Homo sapiens: one gene and its partners. The protein of the gene in region 1 purifies or fractionates together with the protein of each later gene. This does not show direct contact. Each region holds a gene or a part of one and is shown in the gene's direction. Other genes may lie near its edges. The genes, in order: TLR10, ECEL1, MTHFR and FBXO45.

Region 1 (7,619 bases):
GCGCGTGCCTGCGTGCATGCATGTGTGTAGGGGCAGGGGGAAGTTTTTTAAAAAGGAATAAAAATATTACATCTTAAAGTTATCAGCACATATGGTTCTGAGCATACTATTCTTGGTTGCTAGTTGTGAATAAAGATTTAAACGTTTTAGAAATCTCAGGTGAAGGCAGAGAGAGTATTACATAACCTCTTGGGCATCTGGAGTCGTGAAAAAATTGTGGGCTTTGGAACCAGACTTACTTAGTTTTGAATCTTGGCTCCCTCCCCTATTGGATGATGACCTTGTGCAAGTTTTTTGTTCTCTCTCAACCAGTTTTTCCATCTGGCGAATGGGAATAAAGTATATGTTCTATGTAGTTTGTGGTGGTGATTAGCCAATATCTTGTGTGCAATACTATCTGCACTTAGGAAGTAAATGCAAGCTTAATGATGATGATTAGATGACACAAGCAACAACTCTACTTGGCTCAACTTGTTTTTGGTAAACAAATGTAAAAACACTTAAAGAAAACTTCTCCGTTTTCTGACAATAAAGTATTTAAACATGTTGGTCTCTGGGGAAAGGAAGAATATGTCTTTGGACAACAAAAACCCCAAGTGATTATTTTTCCTTGAGAGGGCAATATACAGTGTGAGTGTGCTGATCATAGTAATTTGAGAATTTCTGAAATGAAAAAGATTTTAGAGCTTAGTTCATCCAACAAGCTGGGAATCCCCTCTCCAACGTTCCTGACGGGTGTTCCTGTCTTCCTACGTTTGTGTAATATAGACATGTTTGTATATGTTTAGGTGAGGAGCAGAGCTGGTTTTGTTTTGCTGTTGTTTTTCTTTTTACAGTTATTTATATTTTGTGTGATTTCCCCCTACAATATATGTGGAAATACATGGACTACATTTTAAATTTAAAAACCCCAATATGATAGTTAAAAAATGTATTTTAAGAACCCACCCACTCCCCAATTTTATAAGACATAAATCTATTATAATCATTCATGTTTAAATTGATCATTCCTCCTGTAGACAAATCCATCTGGAAATTTTCTTCTTTACTCGTGATCTCCAGCAGTCACCTAAATCTTAAGTCAAGTATGAAAAAAACCTCAAAAATGTTGCTTTAAAAATTGATCCGTACTTTGCGATCTACATTTTAAAAAATACCATGCTTATTTTACCACTTCACTTCAAGAAAAGGCCTCTAGGTCAGAGGTCTCCAATCTTTTTGGCACCAGGACCAATTTCATGGAAGACAGTTTTTCCACAGACCGGGTTTGGAGATGGAGGAGAGATGGTTTCGGGATGATTCAAGCACATTACATTTATTGTGCACTTTATTTCTATTATTATGACATTGTAATATATAATGAAATAATTATACAACTCACCATAATGTAGAATCAGTGGAAGCCCTGAGCCTGTTTTCCTGCAACTAGATGGTCCCATCTGACATGATGGGAAGCAGTGACAGATCATCAGACATTAGATTCTCATAAGGAGCACGCAACCTAGATCCCTCCCATATGCAGCTCACAGTAGGGTCCAAGCTCCTATGAGAATCTAATGCTGCCACTGATATGACAGGGTGTGGAGCTCAGGTGGTAATGCAAGCGATGGGGAGCGACTGTAAATACAGATGAAGCTTCATTTGCTTACCCACCACTCACCTCCTGCTGTGTGGCTCGGTTCCTAACAGGCCATGAACTGGTACCTGTCTGTGGCCCAGGGGTTGGGGACCACTGCTCTAGATAACTCCTTTCCACCCTCTTCCTGCCTGATTGCTGAAATTATGGAGTCACCATTCCTACTCCTGCCCATCATCACATGACTGCCCCACCCAACTGATGAAAGGGATAACCGACCTGCACCTTGAAGAAAAGCATCATCAAAGAGCTCTAAGATGCTGTGGAAAACCAGTATGGTAGTTCTGCAAAAAATTAAACAGAATGGTCATACGATCCGTGAATTCCACTTCTAGGTATAGACTCAAAAGAATGTTAAGTACCAACTTAAATAGATATTTGTGCACCACGTTCACAGCAGCATTATTCACAAGAGCCAAAAGGTGAAAACTACCCAAATGTCCATTGATGGATGAATGAATGAACAAAATGTGGGACGTACATACAACAAAATAGTATTCAGCCTTAAAAAAGGAAGGAAAGATTCTATTATTCTATGTAATAATAATAGAAATGATATGGATGAACCTTAAAGACATTATGCTCAATGAAATAAGCCAGTCACAAAAAACCAAATATGGTATAACTCCACGGACATGAGGTACCTAGAGTAGTCAAATTCACACAGACAGAAAGTAGAATTATAGTTTCCAGGGTCTGAGGGAAGGGGAAAATGGGAAATTATTTTTTAATGGCATAGAATTTCAGTTTGGGATGACGAAAAATCTTTGGAGATGGGCAGTGGTGGTGGTTGCACAACAGTGTGAATGTACTTAATTAATGCCACTAAATTGTACATTTAAAAATGCTTAAGGTCAGGCGCGGTGGCTCACACCGTAATCCTAGCACTTTGGGAGGCCGAGACAGGCAGATCACTTGAGCTCAGGAGTTCAAGACCAGCCTGGGCAACTGGCGAAACCCCGTCTCTACAAAAAATACAAAAAACTTAGCCAGGCCAGTTGGTGAGCGCCTGTAGTCCCAGACATTTGCGGGACTGAGAAGCCCAGCCTCTTGCGGGCTTTAGCGCAAGAGGTCAAGGCTGCAGTGAGCAGTGATCACACCACTGCACTCCAGCCTGGGTGACAAAGTGAGACCCTACCTCAAAAAAAATAAAAATAAAAATAAAAATAGAAAGATGGTGAGCATGATAACTCCTATGTTATGTGTATTTGACCACAATTTAAAAAAGTGCTAAGATTATAATGAATATATATAACATGCAATACCAGTAGCATGCAGAAGAGGGCGGATGGGGTTTAAGCTTTACAGAAAACCTCGATTCAATTCCCTCCTGCAGCCAATTCTGACCGTGTCAACGAATCATCCACGCACCTGCAGCTCTGCTGAGAGAGTGCAAGCCGTGGGGTAAGAACCTTAGCTTTGTTTGTTGTAACTCTCATTAAAAAGATATAAGGGCTGCATGGGTATTTTCTAAAAAGGAGATAATTTGAGCTAATATTGAGGGGAGGGAAGTAGGGTTATTTAGATTTTTAGTATTTACTATTTTGTCTAGATTAATGATTAGTGACCTTGGGGCTATTGATCTGAGGAATTTCTTGCAGATGCTTGAGAGCGTGGGTTTCTTTTCACTGATTGCGGATCAAACCTGGTCAGCTCTTCTATTCAGATTGAACGGTCCTATGCACTGTGGCAAGTTTTTTCTAGCTCTTATTTCCCCACAGCGTATGTTAACCTCTGCTGGATGAAACCTTTGGCTATTTAAGGCATATTTGTTGCTCCTTTACCCCGTTGAAAAGTTCTGCATTTGTGTTACCTGTTTAAAAGTAGGGGCAGATCTGATGGATCTTGTACAATGCAGTTCTTATTCCGTTTCCTTCAGAAGTGGACAAAGAGGGCCATATGTGGTTGCTGTAAAGAAGAGGATGGTTAACAACCTGTGAGCATTTGGTTTCTTGATAAGCTTTCTCCCAGACCACCTACACTGAGCTATTAATTAGGAATAGGATGCACTTCGAGTTTTATTTCAATTCTTGTGAACTTATAACTTTCCTAAGAATATATTTATACATGTAGGCAAAGTCTCTTGAACTTTGTGGCACCTAGCAGAGTGTCCCACAGCAGCTGCATGAAGCTTCATAGACAGGGGCATGGGGTGAGAAAGGAGGAAGTGGCCGCCATGGCAGCTGGTCAGATCAATGGATTCAACCTCAGTGATTCGGTCCTTAGGATGTCGTTACATCTTAAGCCACCTCATTTCAAGGTTTGAGGTGCCTTGCATTTGGGTTTAGTTACCATCCAGAAGGAACCAGACAGGTCTGGGTTCAAATCTCTGCTTCTTCAGTTGGTCATCTTGGGCAAGTTACTTTACCTCTGGGCTTTAGCTCCTCCATCTGTAAAATATGAATAATAATGGCCGCCATTTTGTTGAGTCATTGAGGGATTAAACAAGGTAATGGACATAAAACACTTAGCTCCATGTCAGACACGTAGGAAATACTGAAAAGAAGTCATTCTTACTCTTATGTTGCAAAGATCATTCAACATTCAATAGGTTCTTAATCTCTTTTCTATTTCTTTATATCATTGGGAAAAGATAAATTAGATGATTAAATATTCTTTGGTAAAACACTAGTTGTCATTTGATGATGTCTTTTGACTTGGACTTTTAAATTATAAGATATTAAAGATGTATTAAGGAAGGTCATTCTCTGTTTTTTACCTGCTTTTAACGTAGTAGTAGGGATATGATATTAACATATATATACTATTTATAGACTACATCACCAACATGGTGAAACCCCATCTCTACTAAAAATACAAAAATTAGCCGGGTGTGATGGCAGGTGCCTGTAATCCCAGCTACTCAGGAGGCTGCGGCAGGAGAATCGCTTGAACCTGGGAGGTGGAGCTTGCAGTGAGCTGAGATCATACCACTTTACTCCAGCCTGGGCAACAGAGCGAGACTCCATCTCAAAAAAAAAAAAAAGTGTATGTCCTACTTTTAAAATTGCTTTAATGAGGCCAAGCACAGTGGCTCACACCTCTAATCACACCCATTTGGGAGGCTGAGGTGGGAAGATTGCTGGAGGCCAGGAGTTTAAGAGCAGCCTTGGCAACATAGTGAGACCCTGTCTCTATGTAAAAGTTGTTTTTATAAAATGTCATAATGCATAAGTATTGCCTGAGAGATAGGACCTTTACTATTGTTATATTAAGAGAAGTTCAAAAAGAGTTCCTCTCCCATTGTAGTCCCAGATAAGACTGTGGTATTGGGCAGGGGGAAGAAGTGGGTAAGAGATAGAAACTCTGACTTCTCAGCGCAGAGTTCCAGCTAAAGCAACTGGGTTAGATTCTGCTGCATTCTTAAGGGGCCATGGCTCTAAGACCTAGAAGCTTAAAGTCAATTGCTACAAATTAAGCACTCTATGAGAGGATAACATTAAAAGCACCTTTGTCAACCTAATGATTATAACTGCCAGGGTCCTATCAAGCCATAATAGAGCCTGAGGCAAAAGAAACAATCAGCAATACTGATCCTGTCTTTATGAAAAATTTCGATATTTTGTTCAACATAGATTTTTGCATTAATTTTCATTTTTAAAAATATTTCATGTAAACATTATCTTGATTACTGAGTTCCTTGGGACCCCCTTAACATTTATGCCTTCCTTGCTTCACCCGAGTCTTGACCTGATAACTGCCACCATTTATTAAGTGTGATATGCTAGGCATGGTACTAAGTGACTTACATACATTGTCTTATGCCTCTTCACAAGCTCCATTTTACAGATGACAAAACCAGATCTTTCAGAGATTAAATAAATGGTCCGAGTACATAGCTAATGAGTGGATGAATGGTTAACATTGGATTTGAACACAGATCCATCAATCACTAAAACCAAACTTATTCTTTTTTTTTTTGAAACTGAGTCTTGCTCTGTTGCCCAGGCTGGAGTGCAGTGGTGGCATCTCAGCTCACTGCAACCTCCACCTTTTGGGTTCAAGTGATTATCCTGCCTCAGCCTCCCGAGTAGCTGGGACTACAGGCACATGCCACCACGCTCAGCTAATTTTTTGTATTTTTTTAGTAGAGACAGGGTTTCACCATGTTAGCCAGGATGGTCTTGATCTCCTTACTTTGTGATCCACCTGCCTCAGCCTCCCAAAGTGCTGGGATTACAGGCCTGAGCCACCGCGCCAGGCCTACCAAACTCATTCTTCAACCATCATGCCCTGCACTGTATCAGGAATTCACAACATAAATTCATTCATTCAACACATATTTATGAGAGCATATTATGCATCACGTTGTACTAAGGATTAAAACGTTGAAATTCATACATACAAGGATTCATTCATTCATATGTGCATTCAACAAGCAGTAATGAGCAGGCACCATGTGTCAAGCACTATGCTACATGCTGAGGATACAGAAGTGAACAAGACAGACAGCTACCACGGGAATGAACAGAGAAGGGACAGGTGACAAGCAAATGAATGAAAGTTTATTTACTAAGAGGTCATTCAGAAGAGATCATGAATTCATGGAAAATTATTTTCTGCATCTAGTGGCATGGAAATTAAGATATTCTGAATTTTAATGTATAGTTTTAAGAAAACTGAAAGAAAATATAAAGTTTATCATTATACATTGGATACTATGAACACAATAATTTGAGTAGTAATTACACTTCCAGGCCACAGTTGTAAACTGATTTTCTATTAGAAATATTTAAAAGTAGATGTAGAAAACTTACTCTTAAATATATAACAGTTCAAAAATCCAGCAGGAACTAAGTTAATTAAATAGAATATTCACCTGTTTTTTCTGATAATTATCCTGTGTTATATTTACATATTAATGCAGTATAATATTTTAGTATACATTACACTCTAGGGAGTCACTGAAATGTCAGCAAAGAAAAATACGGCCGGAGGCATCTTAAGTCATTTGACCACGTTTTTAAAAGTTGGTGTTTTGAGAAATCATCTAAATGTGGTGACCTTACCAAAATGATTGCTTTTTCTCCAAGATATTTGAGAACACTTACCAGAAACAATAGTTTATGAAATATAAAAATTATATGATCAATGTGGATAATTAATATTTTTACAAAGGAATTCTCCAAGTTTACATTGTAAGGGAGTTCACACAAAGAAACTATGATCATATGTGTTCCCAAGATAAGAGATAAGATGCTCTCTCTCCTTTACTAGTATCAGCAGCTAATGGAAAACTTGGGAGTGGCCCTCTCACTCCCTACTCTCCATAGGTTTTCTGGAATTTCTTCACTTCAAGAAAAAAACCAGACTTGGGAAGGTTCTAGAGAAAGAGAAATACAGATGAGAGAGAGGTAACATTCTAAGTGGCCTTATGTTTTGATTCTGCCCCACCTTTGTTACCCTGCCATGTTTGTGTGCATTCCTGTGGATGGGCGTGCCCACTGCCTCCCTCACCTCCCATCCAGGCTTTCAGAATGATGGGAACATGACACGCACAGAGAATTCTCTCTAACCCATCCTCTTTCTGTTGAGCATATCTTTTGCTCCCTCTGCTTGTCTATGGGAGTGACCTGTCTGAGGGAGGTTGAGGGTCAATGTGTAACAGATACATACAAATGGAAGCAGAAAAACTCCCCCACTAACTTATCACCTGCTCTTGGTGCCTTCAGAGAGCCTGGTGTGGGGACACGTAGAGTTAAATTGTTTACTAATTTGAAATTAGAATCTAACCACTTCTCTCCACTTCCATTGATACATTCTCTCTGGCACAAGTTACGCTATAGTGTCCCAAGGAGTCTTCCCTGCCAGCCTTGTGGCTCCCAGTCATTTCCACCCAACAAACAGAGGAATCTTTTTATTTGTTTGTTTGTTTATTTATTTATTTATTTATTTTATACTGTAAGTTCTGGGGTACATGTGCGGAACGTGCATGTTTGTTACATAGGTATACACATGCCATGGTGGTTTGCTGCACCCATCA
Region 2 (7,652 bases), on another chromosome or scaffold:
GAGTGCAGTGAGTTTCCAGCGCCAGCGGGTGTGGGTGGGACCTGGGACCAGAGCCAAACACCTGGGCACAGCATCCAGGGGATGGAGGAAGGGCAGGAGGCAGGGAAGGTGGGACAGGGCGGGCAGAGAGGGAGAGTGCGAGGCAAAACTCTGGGCCAAGGCCTTAGGATTTGGAGACCAGATGGGGTGAGTGAGACAACCTAAGTATCCCTCAGTCACAGAGGGTGACCCCGAGGACCTCTGGCTTGGAAACACTAGCACAGGCCACATGGGGAGGAGAGGCACTCAACCATCCATCCTATTGTGTCCTATTTATTAAAAATAAATCAGTAAGGGCTGGGCACAGTGGCCCACACTTGTAATCCCAGCACTTTGAGAGGCCGAGGTAGGCGGATCACCCAGAGTTCAAGACAAGCCTGGGCAACATAGCGAGACTCCAGTCTCTACACAATAAAAAAAAATTGGCCAGGCATGGTAGGAACACCTGTAGTCCCAGCTACTTTGGAGGCCAAGGTGGGAGGATCACTTGAGCGTAGGAGATCCAGGCTGCAGGGAGGTGTGATTGCACCACTGCACTCTCTCTGGGAAACACAACGAGACGTCATCTCTAAAACAACAACAAAAAAGACGATAAAATAAAGTGATACCCAGGTGGGCCTAGATGCTCCCCCTGCAGTGGTCGCAGAGCCTACCTGGCCTTACCTTGGGAGGGCTGAGGCTGCGTGAACGAGGACTTTCATGTTTCTCCTCTACAAACTTGTGTGGCTTCAATATTTTAAAACAAGAGAATATTTACATGTTTCTTGTACAAAAACAACATTGCTCCAGAGGTTGGGAGGTGACCCCAAGAGGAGTCTATGCATGGCGAGGACAAAGCCTACCACGGGGTTCAGAGTGGAGAGGAGGGGTGCAGGAGGGTGGAAAAGTGGCCCCCACTTTGTCATCTGGTGGGTTCCAGAGCAAAGGAAAGGTGTTCAGGATCTGAGAGCCTGGGCAGGTTTGCCTGGGTGCTGTGCCTGGTGTATGGCTTGGCGCTGAGAGATGCTTCAGGCAGGGCATCTCCATGAACTGATCACGGACGTCACCTGAGTTTATCATATGCGTCCCCTGTCCTGGGCTCCAGAAGGGGCCGCGGGCTACCTGGAGGGGAAGAACAGGGGCTGCCATAGGAGAGACTTTGCATCCGGTGGAGTAGGGGCCTGTGGAGGCAGCACCTGACCAGATGGGAGAGGCCACTTCCAGGTGGCCCTGAAGGATGGTTGGCAATTGGCCACCGTAAGAGGGGACGGGGGAAGGGTGTTCCAGGCAGCTGAAACAGCAAGTGCTAAGGCCTGAGGGATGACAGAGCCAGCCATGTTCTGGGAAATGGAAATAGATCAGAGTAACCAGAGGAAAGAGGGAGGTATGGGGGTGGGGAGGCAGAGAGGGACAAAGACAGAGAAGAGCCAGGAGGAGGCCCTGCCTTGTGGGCCACACTAAGATGCCTGAGCTCCCCCGTGAGGGGTGAGGAGGGGTTCTGCCGTGGAGGCCGGAGTGGAGGCCAGGTGTCCAGCAGCGGAGGCCAGTGCCAGCAGTCGAGGCCGGAGTGGGCCTAGTGTGGGGTCAGGACCTAGCAAAGGAGCTCAGCCAGAGGTCTGGACAGGGTGGAGGAAGCCAGGCCAGGAGGGCCGGGGGGTGTGGGGAGGTGATAGGCCAGGCCAGGGAGCCCAAGGGCTGCCCTTGAGGCACAGGAATCTGAAAGCCAGTGGAGGACAGATCCAGCTGTCCCCCCGACCGCCCTGCCAGAGGTAGGCCCCACTGGAGGCTCAGGCAGGACCAACGGGCACCCGTCACCCCACCTGGTCACAGCAATGGGGAGGAGTGGAGGCCTGGGGCAGAGTGGTGGGGTACTGGGCCTTTGGGGTCTCTCAGTTCGGCTGTGGGCCCCGAGCTTTCCAAGATGAACCTGAGTCAGCACCGTGGCGGCTGTGGCGGCCACGGCGGCTCCGGCCTTCCTCCACCCCCTCCCTGCCACCCCGGCCACTTGGGAGAGTCATTTCATTTCTCAAATTAAAAATCCATTTTGTGCTGTGAATAATAGATGGGATGAGCCCCGAGAGGCCGGGTGGAGGACAGGAAGCTGGCTGGAGGCGTGTTTTTAGGGCTCAGAAGATACCACAGATCTGCAGGGGAGGAGTAGGGCCTGGTTGGACAGGGTGGAGGCTGGCGGGGCTCGTCCTGGAGCTGACACCCTGCTGCAGCACACCGAGGCAGGGCAAGGGGTTCATCCCCACCCACGTGCAGGCCGCAGGAGAGAGGCGGGTCCGACCACAAATGGGCTCCAGTCAGGACCAGGCCCGGCGTTAGGTGGGCAGCCCCACCTCAGAGCAGGGCACTTAGCAGCCCACATGGTGAACGTGCAACAGATGCAAGCTACTGGTGACAGCACACTGTCCTCAGGGAGGGCTCTATGTCCAGAACCCAAACCAAGTGATGCCCTGTTCGGCAGAGTTGCTGGGATCTACCCTTGGTCAAGGAGGAGACAGAGAGTCAGGTTCTGAACCCCTCATCTCTGCCCCCTTGCATCCCCTCGGGCCTTTTCTCTCCAAGGCAGCTCTGGCAGCACCCAACTGCTCCCTGAAGCTGGGCACCCAGCTGCCTCACTCAGGGCTTGGCTGGGTTTAGCTGGGCACCACTGTGGCCTGTCATTCTCTTTCTCATGAGTCATGGGGTCATCTTGGTAATTAGGGGTAGGAAGAGATCCCCCAAAAGAGTGAGCAAGCTACAGGCCAGACCACTGGTGCCTACTCCCCTACAGTGCCAGCTTCCCTTACAGAGAAGGTGCCGGAGAGTCAAGGAGGTGGGCCTCTGACTTCTCTTTATTGGCAGTCTGTGTGGGGTGGCCAGGACTGAGGGGTCAGAGGGCCCAATTCCAAGTCAACTCCTGTAGGCCCTGGTTGCTGCTCTCAGCCCGGGGCTGGGGGATGCGATGTGAAAAGAAAAGGTGAGGTGGAGCCAGGCAGGTCGCCCGGCAGGGAGTCGGGAGGCCCATGAGCAGACCAATAGCAGCTGAGTCTGGGAGAGGGTGGCTGGAAGGGGGGTCCCAGAGCTGACCCGGGAGGGAGGAGGAAGGGATGAGGGAGGGCAAAAGGAGGGAGGAGAGACTGAGGGCCTGGGGGCTGCCCCCCACCCCACCCCCGGGACTGGAGCAGAAGAGTCCCTAGGGAAGCGTGTTTGCCTCTGTGCCTTTCTGTCGGAAGAGGCTCTCTGAGACAATATCCATTTTTACATTTCTTGGAAATTTCATGGCATTCATTTCGGGGAAAATAAAAGCTGTCCTTGCTGGAGAAATGATACCAATCAGGGCCTGAAAAGGCTGGAAAATTATCCTCCTGGAGACGGGAACATTGAGGGAAAAATGCAGATTAAAAGCACAAAGAGCCACTTTGCCACCTCCCTGCCCTCCCCTCCCCCCTTCATGGAATCGCCACATTATAAGTAATTCCATTTTTCCTCTTTAGAATTAATAGGACCCAAGAAGGATGCATGGGGCAGAGGACAACCCTGGGGTGGCCAGAGATGGAGGCAGGGTATCCGGAGTGGGGGCTTAGAGATGGAGAGATGAAGAGGCAGGGAGAGGCAAGACAGGGGCAGAGGCCGGCACTCAGGGCCAGGGCTCAGGAGCTGGGCAGATGCACAGACCCTGAGGAGGAGAACAGGATGATGGGTAGGTTATCAGAGTCCCTACCTTGTTGTGATTTTTATTAGATGGTGCTCCATGGCTCTCACACATTGTTTAAGCCAATCCTACGGGCTGGAGCCGGCAGACCTGGGAGGGCTGGTGCTTTGTGGGGTCTCCTGCTAGAGACACCAGAGGCAGGGTAGGGCAGAGAAAGCAGAGACTCCAGAAACAGTATCAGTCTTCCAAGGAGCCCCAAGTTCTCTGTGTCCCATTAGGGCCAGGCTGTCTGGCCAAGGCAGGCAGGCAGGTAGAAGAGGGCTTTGCCTCCAGGCAGTGGGGAGGCCCCACATTTAAAAAGCCAGTTTACCTGGAAGAAGGCAGGCGGTGAGTAAATTCAGAGTCCCTGCACCCAGCCTGCCCTCCCATCAGTCCACATACCAGGGTCTTGAGGCTCAGGGCCTGTCTGAGGCCTAGGGCTGCTGGCCAGAGGGGGCAGGCTCCAGCCTTCCCTGGCTCCAGCAGGGAGACTTCGCTCATTCTTCTCTTGGCCTTTTCTTCCTACCTGGGCCAGGGACTCCCTGAGCCGTGGTGCCAGGGCCACCCAAGGCTGGGGAGGATGGGGAAGGGGGCGGCAAGCCCTCTTCTTGCAGGAGTCCCCGCTGAGCTCCCTTCACCAGGGGCTAGGTGAAGGGAGCGAGGCCAACCAGAAGCCCTAGTGGAGAGCCCATCCAGGGCAGGGGTTCCAAGGAGGACAAAAAAGCCGGTTAGTGAAGGTGCGCTCTGCGCCAGGGACTGTGCCGGCAGACACAGGCACTACTGACACCGCCCCCAGCCCTTCGGAGGAGTCCTCGGCTCCTCATCTCCAGCTCCAGCCCCTTTCCAGCCGGCTGGTGGGCGGCTGGGAGTGGGGACACTGGATCGGAGGGGACCCTTCACGGGAGTACTCGCTGCCCTCACTCGTCTCGGAACGCGGCTGGACCCGGAGTCCCCGACCGCAGCCCGCGCACGACCCCCGGGAGCCTGTCTCCGCGGCCGCCGACCCACGTCCGCGCTGCCGCCCCACTGCCAGGTGGCCCGAGAGATGCAGGAGGAAGGAGGGGCGCGCGGGGCGGGCGGAGGAGGGTGGAGCCGCCGGCGCGCCCCCTCCCTCGGGCCGGCAGGCGGGCGGCGCGGCGGGCTCGGCGCGGCGGCAGAGGAGGCGGCGGGCGCTGGGAGACACCGGACGCCCGCTCGGCTGCGCTGCGGCTCAGGCCCCCGCTCGGGCCCGACCCGCTCGGTCACCGCCGGCTCGGGCGCGCACCTGCCGGGTAAGTGGCGCCCGAGTCCCTGCCGCTGAGGCCACCACCGCGGCCACTTCCGTCGCCGCCGCCGCCACTGCGCGGAGCCTCCCGGCTTTGTCTGCGTCCTCTCGGCTGCGGCTCCGGCTGCGGCTGCGGCTGCGGCTCCCGGGCTCGGCTCTCGGGCTCCGCGGACTGCGCCGCACGGCGCCGGGGCTCGGGGGTCGCCAGCCAGCTCGCTCCCCGCCGGGGGTGAAACTTCGCCCAAGTTTGGGTTCTGGGGAGAACCTGTTGAAGCCAGGAGTGGCTCGGGGCGGGGACAGAGATGGTGGGAGTGGGGGGAGGGAACCCGTCTCGGGTTCTCCATCAGGGCCGTCCAGTGGGTGGGTTGTGTGTCCGCCACCCTGGGGCGTTGGCGCGCGCCCCTAGGGAAGGGGCGAGTGGGCCGTCGGGCCACCGAGCAGAAGGAGCCAGGGAGCGGGGTTGGCGTGGTCGATCCCGCGGACTTCCGCGAGGACAAAGTTTGGTTCTTTGGCCGCTTTGCGGAGCGTCTGTCTGGGTCCAGCGCGGAGAGCTGAAAGTGTCGCATAGACGCGCCCCTGACCGCACCTCCTCACTCCAGCCTCCGCTTCTTCCCCCACTCCACCCGGCCTTGGCTGGGGCAGGTCGTGGAAGAGAAAGGCGAAGGGGAAGAGGGACGACCTTTCAATGAAGGCCCACTACGTGCCAGGCCCCTTGCCTGGCGCCTCTTGCTTCCAATAAGAGCCCTCCCAACCCTGCGGCCCTCAAGTGTGTGCAGGGAGGGGACAGGGGGGAAGACTCCACTGTGCACCCGGGGGTGGTGGCCCCGCCGAACCCTCATAGTCCCTGGTTTCCGCAGTGAATGAGGCCCGCGGCTGGGGCCTCTGCACCCAGGCCTGTGTCCCTCCTCGCGGTGACCCTGAGCCCCATCCGGCTGCGGCGCCTCCTGAGCCTGCTTCCGCCCTTCCCGCAGCTGCGGCCCCAGGGCCATGCGGAGGCCCACGAGGAGGCCGGCGGCCACGCGCATCCCGTAGCCCAGGTGGCCCAGGTCTGCACCGCGGCGGCCTCGGCGCCATGGAGCCCCCGTATTCGCTGACGGCGCACTACGATGAGTTCCAAGAGGTCAAGTACGTGAGCCGCTGCGGCGCGGGGGGCGCGCGCGGGGCCTCCCTGCCCCCGGGCTTCCCGTTGGGCGCTGCGCGCAGCGCCACCGGGGCCCGGTCCGGGCTGCCGCGCTGGAACCGGCGCGAGGTGTGCCTGCTGTCGGGGCTGGTGTTCGCCGCCGGCCTCTGCGCCATTCTGGCGGCTATGCTGGCCCTCAAGTACCTGGGCCCGGTCGCGGCCGGCGGCGGCGCCTGTCCCGAGGGCTGCCCTGAGCGCAAGGCCTTCGCGCGCGCCGCTCGCTTCCTGGCCGCCAACCTGGACGCCAGCATCGACCCATGCCAGGACTTCTACTCGTTCGCCTGCGGCGGTTGGCTGCGGCGCCACGCCATCCCCGACGACAAGCTCACCTATGGCACCATCGCGGCCATCGGCGAGCAAAACGAGGAGCGCCTACGGCGCCTGCTGGCGCGGCCCGGGGGTGGGCCTGGCGGCGCGGCCCAGCGCAAGGTGCGCGCCTTCTTCCGCTCGTGCCTCGACATGCGCGAGATCGAGCGACTGGGCCCGCGACCCATGCTAGAGGTCATCGAGGACTGCGGGGGCTGGGACCTGGGCGGCGCGGAGGAGCGTCCGGGGGTCGCGGCGCGATGGGACCTCAACCGGCTGCTGTACAAGGCGCAGGGCGTGTACAGCGCCGCCGCGCTCTTCTCGCTCACGGTCAGCCTGGACGACAGGAACTCCTCGCGCTACGTCATCCGCGTGAGTGCGCCCCCTGAGCGCCCTGCCAGCGGCCGCGGATCCGGGGCGCAGTGGCCTTGCCCAGGGGTCCCTGCGCGCGGGAGGCGGGTGCGTGAGAGGAGAGGAGGGAAGAGACGAGCAGGAGAGGGGAGGGGAGGGGAGCGCACAGAGGCAGAGCGCGGGAGGAGGGCGCAAGTAATTTCCCTGGGGTAATTGCGGTGTTTAGAGGAGCCGCGGGAGCCGCAATTTCCCAGCCCTCTGGCAGGCAGTGAGGGCCAGGAGGGAGAGGCGCGCCGGCGGGCTGGGTTGACGTCTCCGCGAGGTCTGGAGCTGGCCCCAAAGCTAGGGGTCCCAACTGTCAGTGGGGGACCTACGAATGCCCCGGACAGATAAGGAAAGTGCAGACGTACAGGGGTAAGATTGGGCATCCGCAGGCTGGGACAGTCAGGGATGGGGCTTTGGCCATCTCGTCTGGGTGGAAAGAGGAGCTGGGGTCTGCGTGCTTCTGTGGCTGTACTCATGGATGTCTGGTTGCTCTCTGGGCATTGGAGTGGGAATTCCCTCTGTTTAGGGAACCTGAGGTGTGGGCCTCTGACCTGTGGCCCCTGTCTCCCTCCCCAGATTGACCAGGATGGGCTCACCCTGCCAGAGAGGACCCTGTACCTCGCTCAGGATGAGGACAGTGAGAAGGTGCTGGGGCATGGGATGGGGAGGCAGGGAAGGCCTGGGGCCCCAGGAGGGGTGGATCCAGGCTAGGCCTGTCCCTGTCCCTGGGTGAGCCCCCTCCCCTGGTGCAGATCCTGGCAGCATACAGGGTGTTCATGGAGCGAGTGCTCAGCCTCCTGGGTGCAGAC
Region 3 (7,162 bases), on another chromosome or scaffold:
GTGCTCTGGCGGCTTCCTGTCCACTCTCGGGGCCCTTGGGGCCTGGCTTGCTCCAGGGTCTTGGGCTACTGGCAGCTCCTCTCCTTGGGCTCCTGGCTGCCAGGCGTTGGTGCCACTTCTTAAAGGCCTGGAACCAGGGAGGAGAGGAAATGCTATTGTTGTGGGCTTTCTCCGGGGTCTGTGCTGTGCCTGCTAGAGCAACCCCTGTACCCAGCTCCTTTTGTCCCCAGGGCCCCTCCCTCTGCCCCAAGCAGCCAGCCAGTCTTGCCTAGGCCAAATGCACAAGCTCAGAATAGATCTGATGGTGAGCTGGGAAGCTGTACTCAGAGCAGAGCAAATGAGGGAGGGGGCGCTCAGGACCCAGGCCCTCCATGGGCTAGTGTGAGTGGCAGCCATGCCTCATGCCACACCTTCTTCGCAAACTGATGGACCGGGTGGGCCTGGCCTGAGCTGGGGCCACAAATCAAAGCAAGGGCTCCAGCATCCAGCCTGTGTGTTCTGTAATGGAACTGACCCCCTCCCCTGAAAACGAAGGGGCCCCGGGGCTGGCAAGCAGGGAAAGCTCCACGGTGCGTGGCTGTGGCACAGACTTCTGGAAGGCTGGCTGAGTGGAATGCAGGGAAGAGGGCAGTACCTGGGAAAGGACCCACCCATCTTCCTGCTGCTGTAACTGCTGAGCCACTCGCAGTCGCAGGATCCGCTGCCACCACGTCTGCCAGGCCCATCTCAGGTGCCACTCCCTGAGCTTTGGGGACAGTTGGCAGAGAAGGCCTCTTGTGCTCACGCTCCCCCGCAGTCCCCAGCCCTTCTGCCTTTCTCCCCCGACACTGCTGCACCAGAGTGAAAGGGCTATGGCAAGGGGGTGTCATCTGAGGAGTATTAAGAATGCAGATTCCTGGGCCTGTCCCCCAAGGTTTTGGAGTCAGTAGGTCCAAGGGCCATACTTTTGAGAGGGGTTTGGGTTAAGTATGAGGTGAAATGGGAGATGGTCAGTGTGGAGAGGGGTGCACCCACTCACCAGGGTCCGCACCAGCTGCTCTGCCCCTTGGGCATCCACCCAGTGCTGCCATGCCACTGCCAGGCACCTGGCCTGCTGGGAACCCCGCAGCCCGTGAAGCAGTGCCTCGAGGCACCGGCGCTGCAGGTACTTCCTCCTGATGGCCAAGAGCATCGTGACCCTTCAGGGCCAGAAGGAGGGCAGAGCCATGGGCCTGGGCCTGCTTTTCCAGGATCCTGCAGGAACGAGCACTGGCCAGAGAGGGCCCAGCTGTAGCCATGGCTCAGGCAAGCCCCTCAGCCCTTGCCCCCATCCCTCGGACCCACCAAACTGCACACACAGCTCCTCTTACCGTAGCCTCCGTTTATGGGCCTTGCTTTGGGCTTTGCAGGCTCTGGGCTCAGGGCTGGAGTGCGCTCTTGGTCCCTGGTCCCTCGTCCACAGGGGCAGGCCTGGGACCCAGCTACTCTGTCCAGGCCACTGTGGCCAGAGCTGGAAGGCAGGGCAGAGGGAATGTTCCCTGCACCCTGGAAAGGGGAGTTGAGTCACAAGAGGTTAAGGTGGGTCCAGGAAGGCAGCTGCTCTTAGTGCCCGCCTAGGAGTTGAGTACAGTGAGGAGGGTGGAGGAAGGTGCTGAGCTTAGCCTTGTGCCCTGCCCCCATCTCCCCAGGCCTCCAGCCTCTCCCGGCTGCCTGCCGCCCAAAGAGAAATCACAGGGGCGGGGCAGGAATGCAAAGTGTTTTCTCAGAACAGCTGAAACATTCCGAAGAGGGAATGGATGGGGAGAATGGTCAATACACATAAGACCGTGTCCCAAGGAGCTGATTTCCAGGCCCCTGAGGACTGGAGACCGCTTCACCCCTGCACTTCAGACACCGTTTGTCCCCCGGGGCAAGGTCTCCTTACTCTGAGCCCAGGCCGTTCCCCTTGGCTTCCTCCGTCCACCCAGGCTGCACTGCAGTGATGGCGCGGGAGGCACCAGCTCTGTGGCCTGTGTCCAGCAGCTGCGGGTCTGAAGGAATAGCCAGAGAGGAGCACCTGAACCCCATGGGCTTGGACTTCCTGGGGCCCCGCTGGGATTTCTTCGCTGCTCTAGCTGGCAGGACACATCCCGGCCTCTTCCACCCATTCCCCCATGTGGCTGAAGACATTCCAACAATGGGGTGGGCCCATAATAGTTAGCCCTCAGTCAGTTCCCGGAGCACAGCCCTGGGAGGGGGCTATTTCTCTCCCCACTGAAAACATTTCAAAGCTGAGTTACTTGTCTGAGGCCTCATCCCTCGGAAGCCGTCTGACTCCAGAGTCTGAGCCCCCGGCTAGTACCCTATAGAGAGGGGGCTCTCCAAAGGGGCTGCTGGGGCATGTGTGCCTGTGGCAGAAAAGAGGAGACCCTGGAATTCAGCACCCTGGGTGCCATTCCCAGCGTTTAGTTTCTAGAGGCCTCAGTTTCTCCATCAGCTTATGGGATCCTTGTCTTTACTGACAAGAATGGAATAGAAATGTAAAAGTACTCTGAAAAGCAATTGCCCTGTAACTTATCTAGAAAGAAAAGACCCTGAGACTCCAGAATCTGCTGTTGCCATAGCCCCATATGTGTGAATTCTGCAACTAGCCAAGGCTAGTTCCTTTCAATTCCATTTAAAAAACAAAAACCAGCAGGTGTGGTGGCTCATGGCGTAATGGGCCTGCCCAATGCTTTGGGAGGCCAAGGCAGGTAGATCGCTTGAGCCCAGGAGTTTGAGACAAGCCCTGGCAACATAGTGAGATCCCATTTCTACAAAAAAAAAAAAAAAAAAATTAGCCGGGTGTGGTGGCACACGCCTGTAGTCTCAGCTACTCAGGTGGCTGAGGTGGGAGGATCGTTTGAGCCCTGGAGGTTGAGGCTGCAGTGAGCTGTGATCGCACCACTGCACTCTGGCCTGGGCGACAGAGTGAGACACTGTCTGAGAACAAAAAACGACTGAAAAAAAAAATCACCTTAGCTTTTTCTCTTAGAATCTTCTCTAAAACGTATTCTTTGTGGCATTCTGAAATAGGATTCATGATGATGCCTGTTGATCTTAGGGACACTACCTCACCTGCCAGTATCTTTGGGGCTGTGTCCTTCAAGGACATGTCCCCAGACTGCTGTGCAGTGTCATTTTTTGTGTTTGGTTTGGTGGTGGCTTCTTCCCCCTTGCTAGGCTATCAACCTCTTATCACCACTTGTTGGTGTCAGAACTAACTGCTTCTGGTCTGGAGAGGGACTGACCGATGCCTTTGGGTAGAGAGAATTATGAAAGAAATTTTGGTATTTTTCTACTTTATATTTTCTGAGGTTTCTGTAATAAGCATATTTCACTTTTCCAATAAGAAAAAAAAAAACTTGGCCTGGCGCGGTGGCTCACACCTGTAATCCCAGCACTTTGGGAAGTCGAGGTGGGAGGATCACTTGAGTTCAGGAGTTCGAGACCAGCTTGGGCAATATGGTGAAACCCCGTCTCTACTAAAAATACAAAAATTAGCCAGGCGTGGTGGCGTGCACTTGTAGTCCCAGCTACTCAGGAAGCTGAGGCGGGAGAATCACTTGAACCCGGGAGGCAGAGGTTGCAGTGAGCTGAGATCACTCCTCTGCTTCAGCCTGGGCAATTGAGCCAGACTCTGTCTCAAAAATAAACAAAAAAACTTGACAAAAAAATGCTACTGTCCTCGTGTACCTATTCTGATCCTCAACTGCACCGTGAGAAAGCATGCATTTCAATGTCTCCCTAACAGGCTGTGACCCAACATGCTGGTCTTTGCGGCCGGACCTGCAGTGGCCTGGCACTCGAGAGGTGCCAGGTTCATCTTTGCTGATGGATTCAGAGTTGCTTGTCAGAGGCTGACTGAGAACTGGGGAGAGGTGGTGCATACGAGGTTGCTGGGCCCCTGGGGAGGCATCCAGCCATGCTGCCACCACCGGCTGAATCAAGCTGATTCTAAGGCCGGTGGTCCGAGGGTCATTTTTGGACCTCCCGCCCTGCCTAGGCTCCCTTCACCTGTTTCCAAGGGGCTGGGGCGTCCAGCAGCAGGCTCCCCCTGCTGGCCATCCGGGGCCAGAGCGTGAGGTCAGTCTGGGGCTTGGGGCGTACCTTGCCGGCCCCTGGCAGTCCCAGCCGCACCCTGAGCTGCACTGTCCGCAGGAAGCGCCTGAGCTCAGCCGGCCGGAGCTGGGTGAGGATGGCTCGCTGGACACCGCCGCGCACCGCCGACTGCACCGAGGCCTCTAGGACCCTGCGGGAGAGGAAGGAGTCTGCAGCCAGGGCCATAAAGGCCAGGACTCTCTGCAGGGAGCCCCCCCAGTGCCCTGCGGGAGGGGGCCTTCCGGGCCCAGCCCCAGGCTGGGGCCCACCCACCTCCCACACTCCCTTTTCTGGAGGGAGAATCTGGGTAAACAGGATGGAGAGCGACCTGGAAGGAGAAAATCACAGACGGGGACAAGCATCCTGTTTAGGGGCAGAGAGGGGACAGTCCTGCCAGTGCCACTTTGCCTCCCCTTCCCTGGCAAGAGCGCGTTTATGGCGCTTGCTGAGTGGCTGGCTGTGCTGGTGACTGCAAGGCATGACCATTAGAGACTTCCCCAAGGAGGGGACACACAGCAAGAGGCGGTGTCAGGATGTGGCCCAGGACTAGATGGCCAGGGCGGCCTCTCCCTGTCACCCCCAACCACCCTCTTGAGCCTTTGCCCTGCCACCCAGCCATGAATTACGCTCTACCCCTGCCAAAAACAGGCTTGAGGCCTGAGCTGGAAGCACAGAGTGGGGCTGCACTTAGACCACAGCACTCACCAGGCTCGCGGCTTCCAGGAAGCATGGGCTCGGCTGACCTGGCCCCGACAGGACTCATGCACCCACAGAGCCCAGCACCAAGTCCAGCACTGGGCTGCCTGGGCCCCAGCGCTCTCTCCTGCCTGCTGCTGGGCCTCATGGTGCATGCCCGGGGCCACTGGCCATGCTGGGAAGGCCTGTGGGGCCCGGGCCTTCTTCTGCTGCCCATCTTCCTGGCCTTGCTGCCCGCAGCTTCTCCAGCGGGCAAGGGAGGCCTGGGCCACACGCTGCTCCTGTGCCCCGGCTGCCACTTCCTGGGCTTCCCGCCATGTGGCAAACACGGCCCCCAGTGCTCTTCTCCTCAGGCCATCCTGAAAGGCTTGATGCTGGGCCCGGAGCACCCCCGTGTCTCTTACAACCTCACACCAGGCCTGGAAGTAGCTGCAAAACAGACACATTGGGCCAGGTGTGGTGGCTCATGCTTGTAATCCCAGCACTTTGGGAAGCCAAGGTGAGTGGATCACCTGAAGTCAGTTTGAGACCAGCCTGACCAACGTGGTGAAACCCCGTCTCTATTAAAAATACAAAAATTAGCCAGGCCTGGTAGTGGGCACCTGTAATCCCAGCTACTTGGGAGTCTGAGGCAGAAGAATTGCCTGAACCCAGGAGGCAGAGGTTGCAGTAAGCCGAGATCGCGCAAGTGCACTCCAGCCTGGGTGACAAGAGTGAAACTCCATCTCAAAAAAACAAAATGAAACAAAACAAAAACAGATGCATGGGAGGGCTTGTCTCGTTCTCAGAGTCAAAAGTCACATTTATTCAAAGTTACACCTGCAAATCTCCCACAAAACAGTAAACGACCAGTAACAGGTGAAAGCACTGGCTTTCCATCTTGCAACCTCAGCCTCAGAGGGCAGGGGCTGCCCTGCGAGGGGGATGGGAACCAGCAGTATGGGTTCAAGTCCCACATCAGCCATGCCCTGCCTCCCATCACATGCCCAGGTGGTTGGTGAGGGAGAGGAACACCATCTCTCACTCAGTGAGAAGCCAAGAAAAAAAACCATCTACGGCCAGGCACAGTGGCTCACACCTGTAATCCCAGCATTTTGGGAGGCAGAGGCGGGCGGATCACCTGAGGTCGGGAGTTCGAGACCAGCCTGACCAACATGGAGAAACCCCGTCTCTACTAAAAATACAAAATTAGCCAGGTGTGGTGCCACATGCCTGTAATCCCAGCTACTCGGGAGGCTGAGGCAGGAGAATCACTTGAACCCGGGAGGCGGAGGTTGTGGTAAGCCGAGATCGCGCCATTGCACTCCAACCTGGGCAACAAGAGCGAAACTCTGTCTCAAAAAACAAACAAACAAACAAAATAACCATCTACACCCTCAGATGCAAAAGCACAGACGTCAGCCATTCTGTAGCCAACAGTTCACTGCCCCACGGGGACACTGAACATTCGCAAATTTGTACTGAACTGTGGGAGGAGCCATTCTGTGTCCTCTGCTTGGTTTTACAATATGCATTCATGAACTGTATACATGTTCCACCAGAACATCTTTACTTAAATGAAGATTTCACTCTCTTCTCTTAGCGACAGTGTACAGCAGAATTCTCCTTGCTGTAACTCCTCACAATGGGCGTTATGGTAGATTTCCGAGGAGTGGATTTCTCCTCCTTTTTTTTTTTTTTTTTTGAGATGGAGTCTCGCACTGTCGCCCAGGCTGGAGTGCAGTGGTGCAATCTCGGCTCACTGCAACCTCCGCCTCCCGGATTCAAGTGATTCTCCTGCCTGAGCCCAAGTAGCTGGGACTACAGGCACCTGCCACCATGCCCGTCTAATTTTTCATATTTTTAGTAGAGATGGGGTTTCACCATGTTGGCCAGGCTGGTCTCGAACTCCTGATCTCAAGTGATCCACCTTCCTCGGCCTCCCAAAGTGCTGGGATTATAGGTATGATCCACTGTTCCCAGCTGATTTCTCCCATCTTAATCATATCCTCTAAAACCAAAGAACTGACCTGGCCAGGAGCTGGACTCCCGGGGCTTGTTGGGGCCACAGGTTAGGGGTGGGGTTTGCCACCACTCCCAAAATAGGTAATAAGGTGTCAGTGGTCATGGCCCTGTGTTTCCAGGCTAGGATCTCCCTTCATGCCCCTTTTTTCCCAGGCCACAGGCCTCCTATCTGGGCCACCGTCTGAGCTTCCCACCCCCTGGGTGCTCTCCTTGCTATTCCTTGCGTGGGGAGGACCAACACCCTCCCACCCCCAGGCCCACCCACCTCTGCAGTAGCAGCTGCTCTGGCCGGGTCACTGTGCATCTCTGATGAGCTGCTGCCTGCTGCCAGCTCCGGAACACCACCTTCTGCAGGCCCTGGAGG
Region 4 (6,920 bases), on another chromosome or scaffold:
TTTTCCCAGGAGCCTGGATAACAGAGAATGATAGGAAAAGGTTTAGGGATAGCATAGAACAGGAAAGTGGAGTTTATTAATCTGTTCAGTTGTTTTTTTTTTAAGTTCATATTTTACATATCACCCCGTAGCATTAATTATTTAAGTCATACTTGGCATCTGATGAGAATTCTCTAAAGTTCAGACTTAGATTTTAAGCTAGGTCTTCATGCTGCTTTTGCCATAACAAAATTCAGGTTGTGCATGGGAATGTGAGGCTATGGGTTGTTTTTAATTTATTAATTTGGTCTTTATTTTCCTTTTTTTTTTTTTTTTTGAGACAGAGTCTTGCTCTGTTGCCCAGGCTGGAGCGCAGTGGCACAATTTCAGCTCACTGCAACCTCTGCTTCCTGGGTTCAAGTGATTCTGCCTCAGCCTCCCAAGTAGCTTGGATTACAGGAGCCTGCCACTACGTCCAGCTAATTTTTGTATTTTTAGTAGAGACAGGCTTTCACCATGTTGGCCAGGACGGTCTCGATTTCTTGACCTCGTGATCCGCCTGCCTCGGCCTCCTGAAGTGCTGGGATTATAGGTGTGAGCCACCATGCCCGGCCTATTTTCCCATTTCATATGAAGTTTCCAGTATCTGTTTCTAAAAAGTAAAGACACTTAATGTAATCACAATATGGTTATCACATCTAAATATAAATGTACATTAATTCCTTAATATCAAAAATGCAGTGTTCAAATTGCCAGTTGTCTCATAAATGTTAAATGTTGCATTTTAAAGTTATATTTTATATAATCAAGATCTATATAAGGGTCCCATGGCAAAGGTTGATATGTCTCTTAAGGCTATTTTAGTCTACATATTCACTCACCATCTCCCCAACCTCCCACCTTATTTGTTGAGGAAACAAGGTGGTTTACTCTCAGCTCGATTTTGCGGATTTCATTATCATCGTGTTGCTTGACATGTTCTTCTGTCCTCTATTTCCTACTGAGGTGTGATCAATTTAGATTAGATTAGATTTTTTTTGCAAGTTATTTTGTACTAGACTCAGTGGTTAAAAGTGTGTTAGAAAATAAGAGCTGCTAAATTGTTACGTGGCACAGAAAGTGGTGGGCAAGCACCCGGCAGAGAGAGACATCAAGGGAATTGGGTGGCCCTGGTTAAGAATAGCTTAATAGAGGTGATCTTAGAGAATGTGTGGGAGAAGAAAGCACATATAATACTTTCAGCAAGAAGAACATCATCAAGGTAGAAAGGGAAATAGGAAGAATCAGATTTGGAGGGCTGTGAAAGCCAGGCAGAAGAATTTGCAGTTGGTGATGCTACTAAGTATGGAACTACCAGAGGTTATAGAACTGGGATGAGATATGTAGTAAAGGTGCTGTTTTAGAAAGACAGGTTTGGAAATAATTCAGATAGAGAGTTGAGGACTGAGTTTGGAGAATTTGGTTGGGGCAGAGGAAGGGTGGTCACCAAAAAAGGAAATGATACAGGATCAGTTCAGGGAAATAGGAAGATGTCATAGAAGTTTGAGGAAGAGAGGGCCGGGCGTGGTGGCTCACGCCTGTAATCCCAGCACTTGCGGAGGCCAAGGCAGGCGGATCACCTGAGGTCAGGAGTTTGAGACCAGCCTGGCCAACATGGTGAAACCCTGTCTCTATTCAAAATTCAAAAATTAGCCGGGTGTGGTGGTGCACGTCTGTAATCCCAGCTACTCGGGGGAGGCTGAGACAGGAGAATCGCTTGAACCCAGGAGGCAGAGGTTGCAGTGAGCTGAGATTGAGCCACTGCACTCCAGCTTGGGTGACAGAGTGAGACTCTGTCTCAAAAAAAAAAAAAAAGAAAAGGAAGTTTAAGGAAGAGGTTGTCAATAGTGTCAATGTGAAATTGGAATTTATAAGAATTGGGGAGTAGGCATAGGGAAATATTAATTAAATATTTTATAGTGAATTATTGATATTATTCTCTTGAGTTATTTAGACAGTATTTGCTATTTTGGGGACATGTTCCTTCCCCATTTAATCTTCTTTTCCTTTCTTTTCTTTGTTTCTTTTTTTTTTTTTGAGACAGGGTCTCACTTTGTCACCCAGGCTGGAGTGCAGTGGTGTGATTTTGGCTCACTGCATCCTCTGCCTCCTGGGCTCAAGCATTCCTTCTGCCTCAGCCTCCCAAGTAGCTGGGATTACAAGCGTGCACTGCCACGCCCAGCTAATTTTTTGTATTTTTACTAGAGTTGGGGTTTCGCCATGTTGCCCAGGCTAGTCTTGAACTCCGAGTTCAGGCGATTTGCCCACCTTGCCTTCCCAAAGTGCTGGGATTGCAGGGGTGAGCCACCGCGCCCGGCCCCTTCATTGAATCTTACGTTTTGGTCTTATAAGTGCCTTAAAGTATTTTATAATACGAGCAGATAGGAAAAACATTGGGAATGCCTCAGTTTTATTGTGAATGCATGGGATACTGGAAACAAATAGTTCTCTGTTTTTAAATCTGCGCTCTGCAGCTCACTGAAACGGTAGAGTGCCAGCGAATGGTAAACGAACAGGTGGTGAGGGGACTGGATCCTTGATCTCTCTTTGGGCCTCTTGCACTAACTCGCGGTTGAAATCCCTGAGAAGGACTAGGTGACCTTTAAGGGTCTTCCTAAATGCTGACATTCTATGCCTCTGGAGTTGATTTTTCTCAGGTTAGCTGAAGCATAGGTCCCAGCCTTCCACTGCTTTGGGTAGTTTGACTAAAGTAGAGAAGGGATTTTTTAAAAACATACTAGCCAGGCAGGCGTAGTGACTCGAACCTGTAACCCCAGCTACTCGGAAGACTGAGATGGGAGTATCACTTGAGCCAAGGAGTTCAAGGCTGCAGTGCGCTACGATTGTGCCACTGCACTGCAGTCTGGGTGACAGAGTGAGACGTTGTCTAAAAAAAATTTAAAATACACAAACTAAAAGTTTAAAATTGTTTATGAGAAATTGTTATTGTTTGTATAGAAGAGCTATTTTCATACCCTCTTTATTTTGGAAGTGTAAACCTTTGTATTTACTGAAGAGTCAACTAACTTGTCTTATTGATAGCTTCTCTTCATAAATTCTAGTAGTTGAACCTAGATGCTATCTAAGGGATTATTTGATTTGGTAAAATGAGATTGGTGATTTTTTTATTGTGTAAGTCATATCCAGCAAGTAGGCTGAGGATCTAAGGTAGTTTGTGTTTACTAAAATTTTTCATAAACTTTAGAGCTGCTAGGATTAAAGTTTCTGTTTTATGTAAAATATAATTCTTTTTGATGACAGCATTGCCCATATGAAAACTGTACATCTCAACTTTTTGGTATAAAAATATCAAATATAAACAAAAGTAGAGAAAATAGTTTGATGAACTTCCTTATACCCATCACCAAGCTTTGCCAATGATTAATTTATGGCCAGTCTAGTTTCATGTTTCTATTGCACACTCTCCCACTCCATCTCTGGATATTTCAAAGCAATTCCCAGATACCATTATTTTATCCATAAACGTTTCAGTATTATCTGTAAGATATAAGGATTTTTCTTTTTTGTATCTTTTGATGTTTTAAGAAGTCTGTTTGAGGAAATACTACAATTTAAAATTTTGGTCAGTGATGAAACGGTTGGCATTTATTTTTTAATGTTATTTATTCTGTTAGTATTCCATCCTGAAACTTCAGCCATTATTTGGAAATACTTGTGTTATTTTAAAATATATAACTTCGTTATTTAAAAACATACAGCGTGAAGTTTGGGTAATTTTTAATATTTAAGAAAAATAAAATTGTTATTTATTTGGTCTGTTTTTCATCTTTTTAGATACGTGCTTTTCAACATGCCTTCAGCACTAATGACTGCTCCAGGAATGTCTACATTAAGAAGAATGGCTTTACTTTACATCGAAACCCCATTGCTCAGAGCACTGATGGTGCAAGGACCAAGATTGGTTTCAGTGAGGGCCGCCATGCATGGGAAGTGTGGTGGGAGGGCCCTCTGGGCACTGTGGCAGTGATTGGAATTGCCACAAAACGGGCCCCCATGCAGTGCCAAGGTTATGTGGCATTGCTGGGCAGTGATGACCAGAGCTGGGGCTGGAATCTGGTGGACAATAATCTACTACATAATGGAGAAGTCAATGGCAGTTTTCCACAGTGCAACAACGCACCAAAATATCAGGTGAGAAACTGGGGTTTTTCTCAAGTATGGGCCTTTGTCAAATCACGCCTTAATTTGTTTTAAATTTACAAATTTTTATATAGCAGTTTTTGTCTTTTTGGTAATTTTTATTTTTATTATTTTTTTATTTTTTCAGATACCCAGACTTCAAGGAGATTTTTTTTTTTTAATGTTAGGGGGTTATAGTTAATTTTGTTGGGTGTTATATTTTGATTTTGGCTATGCAGAAAAATATTCTTTTTTTTTTTTTAGACAGAATCTCACTCCGTTGCCCAGGCTAGAGTGCAGTGGCGCCAACTCGGCTCACTGCAACCTGCACCTCCCAGGTTCAAGCAATTCTCTGCCTCAGCCTCAGTAGTTGGGATTACAGGCGCCCACCACCATGCCTGGCTAATTTTTGTATTTTTAGTAGAGACAGGGTTTCACCATCTTGGCCAGGCTGGTCTTGAACTCCTAACCTCGTGATTCACCTGCCTTGGCCTCCCAAAGTGCTGGGATTACAGGCGTGAGCCACCATGCCCAGCCTCAAGGAGATTTTTTGACCATTTTTAAATAAATGTATAAATGATCTATCTCAATATTTGTTTCCTAATACAACTTTAAGCAGCCTATTTTTGCTCCAGATCAGGGGTTGGCAAACTTTTTGTAAGGGCCACGTAGTAAATCTTTAAGTCTTTGCAGTCCATATGGTCTCTGTCACAACTTTTTTTTTTTAATGTCATTTTCAAGGTAAGGATCTATCACGAGTTTCAACTCTATTTATAGTACAAAAGCAGTCATCGATAATACGTAAATGAACGAACATGGCTGTATTCCATAGACCTTATTTATGGGCTGCAGGACAGATTTGGTCCAGGGGCTGTAGTTTGCCAGTTCATGCTCTATATCAAGCTTGTCCAACCCACAGCCTGCATGCAGCCCAAGATGGCTTTGATTGTGACCCAATGCAAATTCATAAACTTTCTTAAAACATTATGAGATTTTTTTGCAATTTTTTTTTTTAAAGCTGATTAGCTATCTTTAGTGTTAGTGTATTTTATGTGTGGCCCAAAACAATTCTTCCAGTGTGGCCCAGGGAAGCCAAAGGATTGAATACCCCTGCTCTAGATGGTCATCTTTCCTGTATCACGGCACATCCAAATCTTTTTCTAGGCTCCTTACCCCAGTAAATACAGCTCTGTGCATGCACATGTTTGTGGATTCAAAGCCCCTGGAGGCATCAGTGAGTTCTGCAGAGACAGGCAAATTCAGGCAAACTGCTGTATTTTTTATTCTTTTCATCTTAGGCTTAAGGCATACTCATTTGACTCAAGTTAAAATTATAGTTCCTATTTGTAAAAGCCGTATTTATTACTACAGACTTAACAGGGTGTAATATACAATAATCTGATAAGAAATTGGAAGTCTTTAAAGAACTATAGATTGCATATTTCAGAGCCACCTGTGGCGTGAAAGTTCCAGCCTCAGTAATGACCTCAAGTCAGGCATACTAAAGCAGAAGAACCAAAAATACATCCCATTTTCTGAGGTATAAAAGCTGGAAGGATTTTTTTCATGGAATGTTTCCTCACTATCCTTTTAGGCTCTGCGGATACTATAAGGAGAAGGGTGTGTAGACTTTATCACTAAAAACGAAGTCCTGTCGCCACCCTTGTAATGATTTTGTAAGTGAAAGTCCTTAAGTCTGTTTTTCAGAGAACATGCTCTATGGTTTTAGTCCTTTTAAATTTATTGAGATTTGTTTTATTCTAATATGTGGTCTGTCTGGATGAGTGTCCCATGTGTGCTTGAAAAAATGTATATTCTTTTGCTGAATGGAATATTCTGTAAATGAGAATTAGGCAAAGTCGATTGATAATGTTCAAGTCTTACATAGTGTTACTGATTTTTTTCTACCCTTCTATTATTTACTAAGAGGAGTATTGAAATCTCCATCTATCCTTGCTAATTTGTCTTTCTTCTTTTAGTTCTCTCAGTGTTTGCTTCATGTATTTTGGAGCTCTGTTACTACTGGTGCATATACATTTCTAATTGTTTTATCTCCCTGCCTGATTTATTCTTTTATTATGAAATGACTTCCTTTGACTCTAGTAATCCTCTGTCAATCTGTCTTTGTATTTAAAGTGGAGCTCCTACACAGCACATAGTTGGATCTTGATTTTTATCTAACCCAGTCTCTGTCTCTGACTTTTTTTTTTTGAGACGGAGTTTTACTCTTGTTGCCCAGGCTGGAAGTGCAATGGCGCAATCTCGGCTCACCGCAACCTCCACCTCCCAGGTTCAAGTGATTCTCCTGCCTCAGCCTCCCGAGTAGCTGGGATTAGAGGCATGCGCCTCTAAACCACGCCCGGCTAATTTAATTTTATATTTTTTTAGTAGAGAAGGGGTTTCTTTTTTTTTTTTTTCTCCTTTTGAGACAGAGTTTCACTCTTGTTGCCCATGCTGGAGTGCAATGGCATGATCTCAGCTCACCGCAACCTCTGCCTCCCGGGTCCCGGTTCAAGCAGTTCTCCTACCTCAGCCTCTTGGGTAGCTGGGATTACAGGCATGCGCCACCACACCCAGCTAATTTTTGTATTTTTAGTAGAGACGGGGTTTCACCACGTTGGCCAGGCTGGTCTCGAACTCCTGACCTCGTGATCCGCCTGCCTCAGCCTCCCAAAGTGCTCGGATTACAGGCATGAGCCACCATGCCTGGCGAGACGGGGTTTCTCCATGTTGGTCAGGCTGGTCTCGAACTCCCAACCTCA

Evidence for each region.
Region 2: the proteins of TLR10 (region 1) and ECEL1 purify together in Homo sapiens (affinity purification with mass spectrometry; one large-scale study listed by BioGRID and IntAct). This does not show direct contact.
Region 3: the proteins of TLR10 (region 1) and MTHFR purify together in Homo sapiens (affinity purification with mass spectrometry; one large-scale study listed by BioGRID and IntAct). This does not show direct contact.
Region 4: the proteins of TLR10 (region 1) and FBXO45 purify together in Homo sapiens (affinity purification with mass spectrometry; one large-scale study listed by BioGRID and IntAct). This does not show direct contact.

Annotation. Positions count from the first base shown.
Region 1 is NC_000004.12:38,778,342-38,785,960, reverse strand, and holds the start of TLR10 (toll-like receptor 10 isoform a precursor), read left to right. Parts: upstream 1-2,970; 5' UTR 2,971-3,040; exon of another isoform or gene 3,041-7,619.
Region 2 is NC_000002.12:232,485,035-232,492,686, reverse strand, and holds the start of ECEL1 (endothelin-converting enzyme-like 1), read left to right. Parts: upstream 1-4,852; 5' UTR 4,853-4,968; intron 4,969-5,932; 5' UTR 5,933-6,033; coding exon 6,034-6,819; intron 6,820-7,419; coding exon 7,420-7,488; intron 7,489-7,595; coding exon 7,596-7,652. UniProt on the Homo sapiens protein: May contribute to the degradation of peptide hormones and be involved in the inactivation of neuronal peptides.
Region 3 is NC_000001.11:11,782,235-11,789,396, reverse strand, and holds the end of MTHFR (methylenetetrahydrofolate reductase (NADPH)), read left to right. Parts: coding exon of another isoform or gene 1-127; 3' UTR 128-353; coding exon of another isoform or gene 354-745; 3' UTR 746-1,018; coding exon of another isoform or gene 1,019-1,248; 3' UTR 1,249-1,349; coding exon of another isoform or gene 1,350-1,524; 3' UTR 1,525-1,903; coding exon of another isoform or gene 1,904-2,009; 3' UTR 2,010-3,674; downstream 3,675-7,162. Other genes in the region: uncharacterized protein C1orf167, read right to left, coding at 354-745, 1,019-1,248, 1,350-1,524, 1,904-2,009, 4,108-4,249, 4,804-5,223, 7,064-7,162. UniProt on the Homo sapiens protein: Catalyzes the conversion of 5,10-methylenetetrahydrofolate to 5-methyltetrahydrofolate, a cosubstrate for homocysteine remethylation to methionine. Represents a key regulatory connection between the folate and methionine cycles.
Region 4 is NC_000003.12:196,573,640-196,580,559, forward strand, and holds part of FBXO45 (F-box/SPRY domain-containing protein 1), read left to right. Parts: intron 1-3,813; coding exon 3,814-4,170; intron 4,171-6,920. UniProt on the Homo sapiens protein: Component of E3 ubiquitin ligase complex consisting of FBXO45, MYCBP2 and SKP1. Functions in substrate recognition but also plays an important role in assembly of the complex.